2 linked regions of the Homo sapiens genome follow. The protein of the gene in region 2 purifies or fractionates together with the protein of the main gene of each other region. This does not show direct contact. Each region holds a gene or a part of one and is shown on either strand. Other genes may lie near its edges.

Region 1 (3,823 bases), on a different chromosome or scaffold from region 2:
GATACAATTCAGGAAAGACTCCTGAACAGATGTGACACAAGTTCCAATTTACATGAATCTGCTCTTTCTGGAGAATTGTCTTCTTAGCATTCACTCATTTAACACTACTTACTGAGCGCCGGGCTTAAGCACTCAGCATACAGCAATGAGCAAAACAGACTAAGTCTAGAGAATGCACATTCTAGTGAAGGGTTATTACATCTTCCTGATGCTAAGTCCAACTCTCCCATTAACTAAAGATTCTGATAAAGGCTTAGAAAGGATTGGGCAAAAAAGAACAGTTGCCTAATAGTAAGATATTTTCTGCAGAGGCAAATTAATAGAGGTTCTGAGTTGAAGGGAAAACACATTTAAAAATCAAGATGGATATACTTGATACAACTTTTTAGAGATTGCCAAACGTTCCTTTTCTTGCTTAGTGGGTTGTGTTCATTTTTCAGCCTTTTTACTGAAGGGTCTGTCACTGCTACTGCTATATATCTGAAGACAATAAACCACAGTAAGTGAGTTCTGTAAAACATACCATCAGCATCATCTGACTCTTCATCTTCTTCTTCATCTTTAGACTTCCTCTTAGAAGAGGACTGACACCTGAGTACATCCTGCGAAGACAAACGACGGAAGTATTCTCTAGGGAAAAGTTCATTTTCATCCTCTTCCTCCTCTTCTTCATCGATCTCAAACGTGGGTTCTAATCTTGGCATTGGCCTCTCGGAGTCAGAATCTTCAAAAGGTTCATCTAACACTTCAGTGGTCTCAGAAATAGTTTCTGTGACTACACTGCTATTGTGGTGTTTGCGCTTTCGGACTCTCCTCCTTCGGTGGAGAAATGGTTTCTGTTTAATAGAGAAAGCAAGTATTTACAGTTATGAACACTATCTTTTCTATTAATAATACGAAAACAGTTTTAAAACCAAATAGAATTAGCACATATAAAATGAGGATGTTGTTTGCCAAAAAATATTTTGAATATTATTTCAAAATACTATAGTAAGATAATACACTTATTATAAATACAAAGGTATTAGGCAATTGAACACAACTTTGTAAAAGAATAGGCAGCCATCTCCAAATAGCAGACATTATAATTCTCTTAATAGTTCAGTTAAATTTAGCACCCTAGAGAGTTGCCCTGTTTTAATACTGAACTGACCCAGAGGCTAATCCCTTAACTTTTCCAACTTAAGAGCAAAAGAGAAATAAAAACACTTTGTCTTATAGCACTACTGTGAAGGTTTGCAGAACTATCAGTAAAGTTGTATGCCATTTTCATGAACTACTCATAAAAAGCTGTGGAATGTAGAAATATGGGGCTGAAATGTATTTACTCAGTGTTAGTGAAATATTTCAAAAGTAAAATAAATCTGTTACTGAAATTTGGGCACACTGAGCACAACTTTGCACTGGACTGACCAAATAGCTAAAATTATACAACTAATATCACAAAATAAGAGATGATGCCCCAGAGATTATCTAATCCAATCCCTTCATTCTATAGATGTCAGAGAGGGTATAGGACTTGCTTAAGTTCACACATCCAGTCAAAGCATTTATTCATTAACTTCAAAATTACTTTGCATGTGAGCTTACTGCCTGTTCTTTTTCTTTTTTTAACATGATTTGTTTTACTTCATAAATTGGCAATACAAGTGCTAGGATGACAAAGATCTATTCTTCATGATCATGCAATGAACAGCAGTTAGTCAATGTTCAATTTTTCTCTACTTCAAACTTAATAGTCCCAATCGAGAATGTAATTTTCAAATTAGATTAAAAATGGCCCTGGTCCTTGGAGAAAAGGCTGATTCTAGGACAAGGGCATGAAATATACAAGATGAACTTGAAGCATCTTGTAGTGCCAGAAAGGAAATGCTTAAAAACAAACAAAAAGACCCCACAATGACAACAACAGTATATATGTTAAACACAGGAGGCCAGGCGCGGTGGCTCACACCTGTAATCCCAGCACCTTGGAGGCCAAGGCAGGTGGACCGCCCAAGCTCAGGAGTTCAAGACCAGCCTGAGCAACATAGCGAAACCCTGTCTCTATCAAAAGTACAAAAAATTAGCCAGGCGTGATGGAACATGCCTGTAGTCCAAGTTATTCAAGAGGCTGAGGTGGGAGCGTTGCTTGCATCCCAGGAGGTGGAGGTTGCAGTGAGCTGAGATCATGCCGCTGCACTCCAGCCTAGGTGACAGAGTAAGACCCCATCTGGGGAAGGAAAAAAAAAAAAAAAAAAAAAAAGCAGCAGCAGCCCAAGAGGGAAACTAAAAGAAGGAGCTTCTAATGGTCAAAACTGGAACAATCTGAGCAACAAATTTTAAAAAGCAGTAGTATTGGATTATAAAGTGAAGTATCACGTAAATATCTGGGCCAATAATGATATAAATAAATGCTTGGATAAATAAACAGATGAGGGAGAAAGGACAAATCTCCCAAGCAGAAATTCAAATAATTTATGCTGAGCCTCCACTCTGAGGGGGTAGAAATCTTAAGTGTGGCTATGCACAGTGACTTCCTTCCAGTAAAGGGAAAAGAAAAGTAGAAACCTGACAAACAATATCTTAAGCCAGGTCATCAAAGTTAACTTCAATAGGGAAAAATCAAATTGATAATACCCTTATATTTGATACTTGCTTCTTTTTATTTTTACAGACGGAGTCTTGCTATGTCACGCAGGTTGGACTACAGTGGCTATTTACAGGTACAATCATTGTGCACTACAGCCTCCAGCTCAAGTGATCCTCCCGCCTCAGCCTCCCAAGTAGCTAGGATTACAAGAGTGACCACTATGCCCAGCTTCCCTATACATACTGATAGATATATGCCAACAGGTACCCTTTAATTATGTGATGAGAATGGCACTTTACCTCTATGGTCTTCCTCTCAAGAATATATTACCCCATTCTAATATCATGAGGGATCATCTACAAAATACCTGACCAGTCATTCTCAAAACTATGAAGGCCATCGAAACTAAGGAAATTCTGAGAAACTACCACAGCCAAGAGGAACCTAAAGACACATGACTACTAAATGTAATGCGATATGCTGGGTGGGATCCTGGAACAGAAAAAGGACGTTAGGGAAAACTATGGAAATCTGAATAAAGTATGAACTCTAGTTACTGATGTATCTACACTGGTTCAGTAACTGTGATAGATGTACCACACCAACGCAAGGGATTAATAATAGAGGAAACTGGCTGGGGTATGCGAGAACTCTCTGTACTTTCTTTGCATTAATTCTGTAAATGTAAAACTGCTCTGAAGATATTATTCTTAAAACAAAACAAAACAAAACAAAAGATCCTGTCTTGCTTTTTAAGACCCTGTAAGGAAAGGAACGATTGTGCTGCTTTGGCTGGAAGCTGGCTGAGTGGCTCTTCCAGGGAGCAGCCTCGCTTCAGTCTGGCTGCCTCCTGGCAATGCTTAAAATCCACTCCATAGCCTGGGATGTTTCTGGTAAACGGCTTAACAGAATTCATTATCATCATTGTACATTATTTAATAACTAATTGGCTATCATTATGATGGAATATAGTTTAGAAAATATTTTTAAAGCAAGAGAGACCACGTTAAACCACTGGAGGGATGTGTGAGAAGTGGGGAGAGTAGAGAGAAAACAATAGCACCCAAGATGAGCTACTGTACTCTGAGTACCCCAAAATATAGGGCAGCACTATGTTCACTTTCCAATTAATTATGTAATATTTTGGCCTCCTTTTCTAATATAAACACTTCTAATCTGTACATACTTTAAAAATATCTTTTAAAGATATTTTAGGGCTTTAAGCCCCTAAAAGTCATGATTTGAACATCA
Region 2 (3,823 bases):
CAAAAAATGTCGTAAAACCTCAACTAACACAACTGTTTATGTAAAATAAATACTCATATTTTATGTATACGAACGCTTTACCCAGAACTTTAGCTTAGCTTTTTTTTTTTTTTGAGATTGAGTCTTGCTGTCGCCCAGGCTGGAGTGCTGTGGCACGATCTCGGCTCACTGCAACCTCCACCTCCCAGATCGCTGGGACTACAGGCGCGTGCCACCACGCCTGGCTAATTTTTTGTATTTTTAGGGGAGACAGGGTTTCACCGGGTTAGCCAGGATAGTCCCAATCTCCTGACCTCGTGATCCGCCCATCTCGGCCTCCCAAAGTGCTGGGATTACAGGCGTGAGCCACTGCGCCCGGTCTAGGTTAGCTTTTTTTAAAAAGTTATGCTATTTAAATTTCTACTATCAATTCAAACTAATTTTGAATTGGTTAGATGTGTTTCTTGAAGTTTTATGTTAATAATAATAAACTTCTTGTTTCAAATGGAAATATTTTAAAAAGAAACTGTTCTTAAATAAGGCTCCATGGGTCCCATAAGAACTTCAGTGAACTACAAACCCCTCTAATTATATGTAAAAGTGTGTGTGTGTGTGATTTTTCTAGGGATACAGAGCTTTTATCAAATTCTCATAGTTCAAGGACCTCAAGAAGAAAATTTCTCGTTAAAGGGATGATTATACATAGGCATATGTAAACAGGGTATTTTTTTTTTTTTTTGGTCAATTGTTTTCATTGAAAACACAATATATGTACCAAGTTCAAAATTCAAACAGTGTGAAAGAGGGCACTATGAAGAGCCACCCTACCATCAACCTGTCATTAACTCCCCTCCACAGAGAATACTAATAAATCTTTCCAGAAATATTCTATGCATAAATAGCATTACTGCAAATATAAACATATAGCTATGTTTTGGTAGATATTAAGTAAATTTTAGAAAGCAATATAAGCATTGTTCAGGTGAACAAAACCACACTGGAACGGGGTTTCACTGATGAAACAGAACCCTCAAAGTCTCAAAAATACTTTTGTTATTTAATGGTATAGACCAGGGTATAGTCCAAAAATATTTTCTTAAATACCCATATAGTAAATATCTTAGGCTTGTGGGGTATATGGTTTGTGTCATACTTATTCAGCTCAGCCACTCTAGCTTAAAAGCAGCCATAGATCATATAAAACACATGGGCATACTTACTTCCAATAAAACTTTTTTGGGGAAAAGAAAAAAAAAGCAGCTATAGTTCACTGACCCCCAGAACAATCTATAAATGTAGTTTAAACTGACACCCTACTGTAAATTGGTGATACATCATTATGAAATACTTTATTTCTTAATAAATAAATAATATACTCTTGTTTTTGACTCACTTTCTGCCATTTCAGAATCCAGCATTTTAAAACAGCTGTTGTCTAAATACACATGGATCCCATAGGTTTTACTCTATTTTTAAATAAGTGGGCATACCACAGCAACCTTCTTTCCCACCACCAAATCATTCAAAAAGGTATCTTTTACCTGTAGGCCAAGAAAGCTACTGGCCTCTGATGCCCATGTTCATCAGTCATAGAACCGACACTTGGAGGTTCAACAATAACATCATAAATTATTCCTATAAGAAAGACAACAGAACAGATTAGATTGTATTACTAATTTTTGAAAACAGGATTATAGTTTTCATTGTCTCTTAAGGTTCATTTACTTTTTTTGAGACAGAGTCTCACTCTGTCGCCCAGGTTGAGAGTGCAGTGGCGCCACTTGGCTTACTGCCAAACTCCGCCACCCAAGTTGAAGCAATTCTCCTGCCTCAGCCTCCCAAGTAGCTGGGACTACAGGCGCCCACCACCATGCCCAGCTAATTTTTGTATTTTTAGTAGAGACGGGATTTCACCATATTGGTCAGGCTGGTCTCGAACTCCTGACCTCAGGTGATCCACCTGCCTCAGTCTCCCAAAGTGCTGGGATTACAGGTGTGAGCCACTGCACCCGGCCAAGTTTCATTTACTTTTAAATAGGAATGCTTTGATTGTATTATTATAACCAAATGTGGCCCAACTCATCTAAAGTTCTGATAAATCATTCAGACATTCAACTCAATGTTTTAGAATTACTTTGAAAACTGTATGATATCTAAATGAAGTACAAATTTCATAAAGGAAATTCATCCAATAAGAGTTGCTAATACTCAGGAATGACTTTAGTATAAAGGGGATTTAAAACTAAAGGCTCTACTTCGGTTCACAAAAATTGTCTCAGATATGCTTAGATTTGTTTCTATAAATTGAAAAATAACTAGAGAAATTGCTTAAATGTAAAACAAGGAGACATTTTAAAACCACGCCATCAGGCAGAATGGCAATACTAGAGATTCATAATCATTAACATTAATGTCCACCATTATGTCATAATGTCATCGTGATCATTAACATTAATGTTCATCAGCACTAATAGTTTTCTCAATCTCCCACTGTCAACATCTACTCTACCTTCTCCACTGTTCTCAAACATCTTCATCTCCAGCTTTTCTTAAGCATAACAAGCCTATCTCCCTTATCCTAGCCTGACAAAACAATCCTATAGGAATTCCCTTGTCTTTTCCCCACCAAATCTACAAATACCTGGTACCTGCATCCATCCTCACCTCCTTCTTTCCAGCTACAAAGAGGAAGATTCCCACCTCCTATAATGTGGGATCCCTTTTGCAATTACCAGGAGTCCATTCCCACTTGGACTCTCAGGGACTTTATTCCTTTGGATATCTCTCCTCTCTCCTGTATTTTCAAGCTCTCCTTCCCTACATCAACCCTCCTTGACTTCAGATCCTCTTAGCTAACATCCTATTTCTATCTTTGCTTTCTGAAAGGGAGTCAGACTTTCTTCTGGAAGACTTAGGCAAACTTGCCATCTCCCCTTTCTTACTTACCCTTCATTCTTCAACTCAATCCAATCTGGCTTCTGCAACCATTGATACTGCTCTTTCTAAGGTCACCAATGATCTCCATGTTGTCAAATTCAATAGACACTTTTCAGTTCTCATCTTAGGGGACTTCTCAGAAGCACTCAATCCAGTTTACTAAACCAATTTCTTGAAAAACACCTCTTCTTATGGCTTTTGTGATACTCCTCTTCATGTTTTCTTGCTACCTCTCTATTGGGCCTCTTCTTTTATAAAAGAACTAAATGTTGGAGGCCCTCAGGGATTGGTCCACTGTCCTCTTCTACTTTTCTCCAAAATGAACTCCCAGGGCTTTCAATTTCATGTGCTAAAGACTCTCAATGTGATGTGCCAAGGCCTCTCAAATAATGCCAGTACCATTAGAATTACATGTAAGCTCCTCAAGAACAGAGACTTTGGACTTTGCCTATACTCTTCAATGTCTCATGGGAGTTCCAGAAATGTCTGTTAGTTGACCAACTTCAACACAGGCCTCTTTTCTCAGGTCTAGACTCCCATCTGCACATGTGACATATCCAACTAATTTTACCCCAAAACAACCTCTGGTGCACCATTTTCCACCAAAAACTTTGTTTTCTCAATCTCAGGAAATGATACTTCCATCTATTCAGGAGCTCAAACCAGAAACCTGTAAGATTCCTTCCCACTTCATTCTTCCCCTACACCCAGTGAATTCAAGACCTACTGAATCTACTTCCAACATATCTTTCATTATATTATCCTAATCTCCACTACCATAAACCTTGTATAGTCTAAGTCAACTACAAAGGCCACCTAATTGGTCTTTTGGTCTCACATTTGCCCTACGTTTCCCTCTGCCTAGCATATCCTTTCCCCGAACTCTTCAGATTTTGGCTTACATATC

What was found.
Region 1: the proteins of OSTC (region 2) and KAT6A purify together in Homo sapiens (affinity purification with mass spectrometry, with the first as the bait; one large-scale study listed by BioGRID). This does not show direct contact.

The regions. Positions count from the first base shown.
Region 1 is NC_000008.11:41,936,733-41,940,555, forward strand, and holds part of KAT6A (histone acetyltransferase KAT6A), read right to left. Parts: intron 837-3,823; coding exon 524-836; intron 1-523. UniProt on the Homo sapiens protein: Histone acetyltransferase that acetylates lysine residues in histone H3 and histone H4 (in vitro). Component of the MOZ/MORF complex which has a histone H3 acetyltransferase activity. May act as a transcriptional coactivator for RUNX1 and RUNX2.
Region 2 is NC_000004.12:108,653,355-108,657,177, reverse strand, and holds part of OSTC (oligosaccharyltransferase complex subunit OSTC), read right to left. Parts: intron 1,615-3,823; coding exon 1,521-1,614; intron 1-1,520. UniProt on the Homo sapiens protein: Subunit of STT3A-containing oligosaccharyl transferase (OST-A) complex that catalyzes the initial transfer of a defined glycan (Glc(3)Man(9)GlcNAc(2) in eukaryotes) from the lipid carrier dolichol-pyrophosphate to an asparagine residue within an Asn-X-Ser/Thr consensus motif in nascent polypeptide chains, the first step in protein N-glycosylation.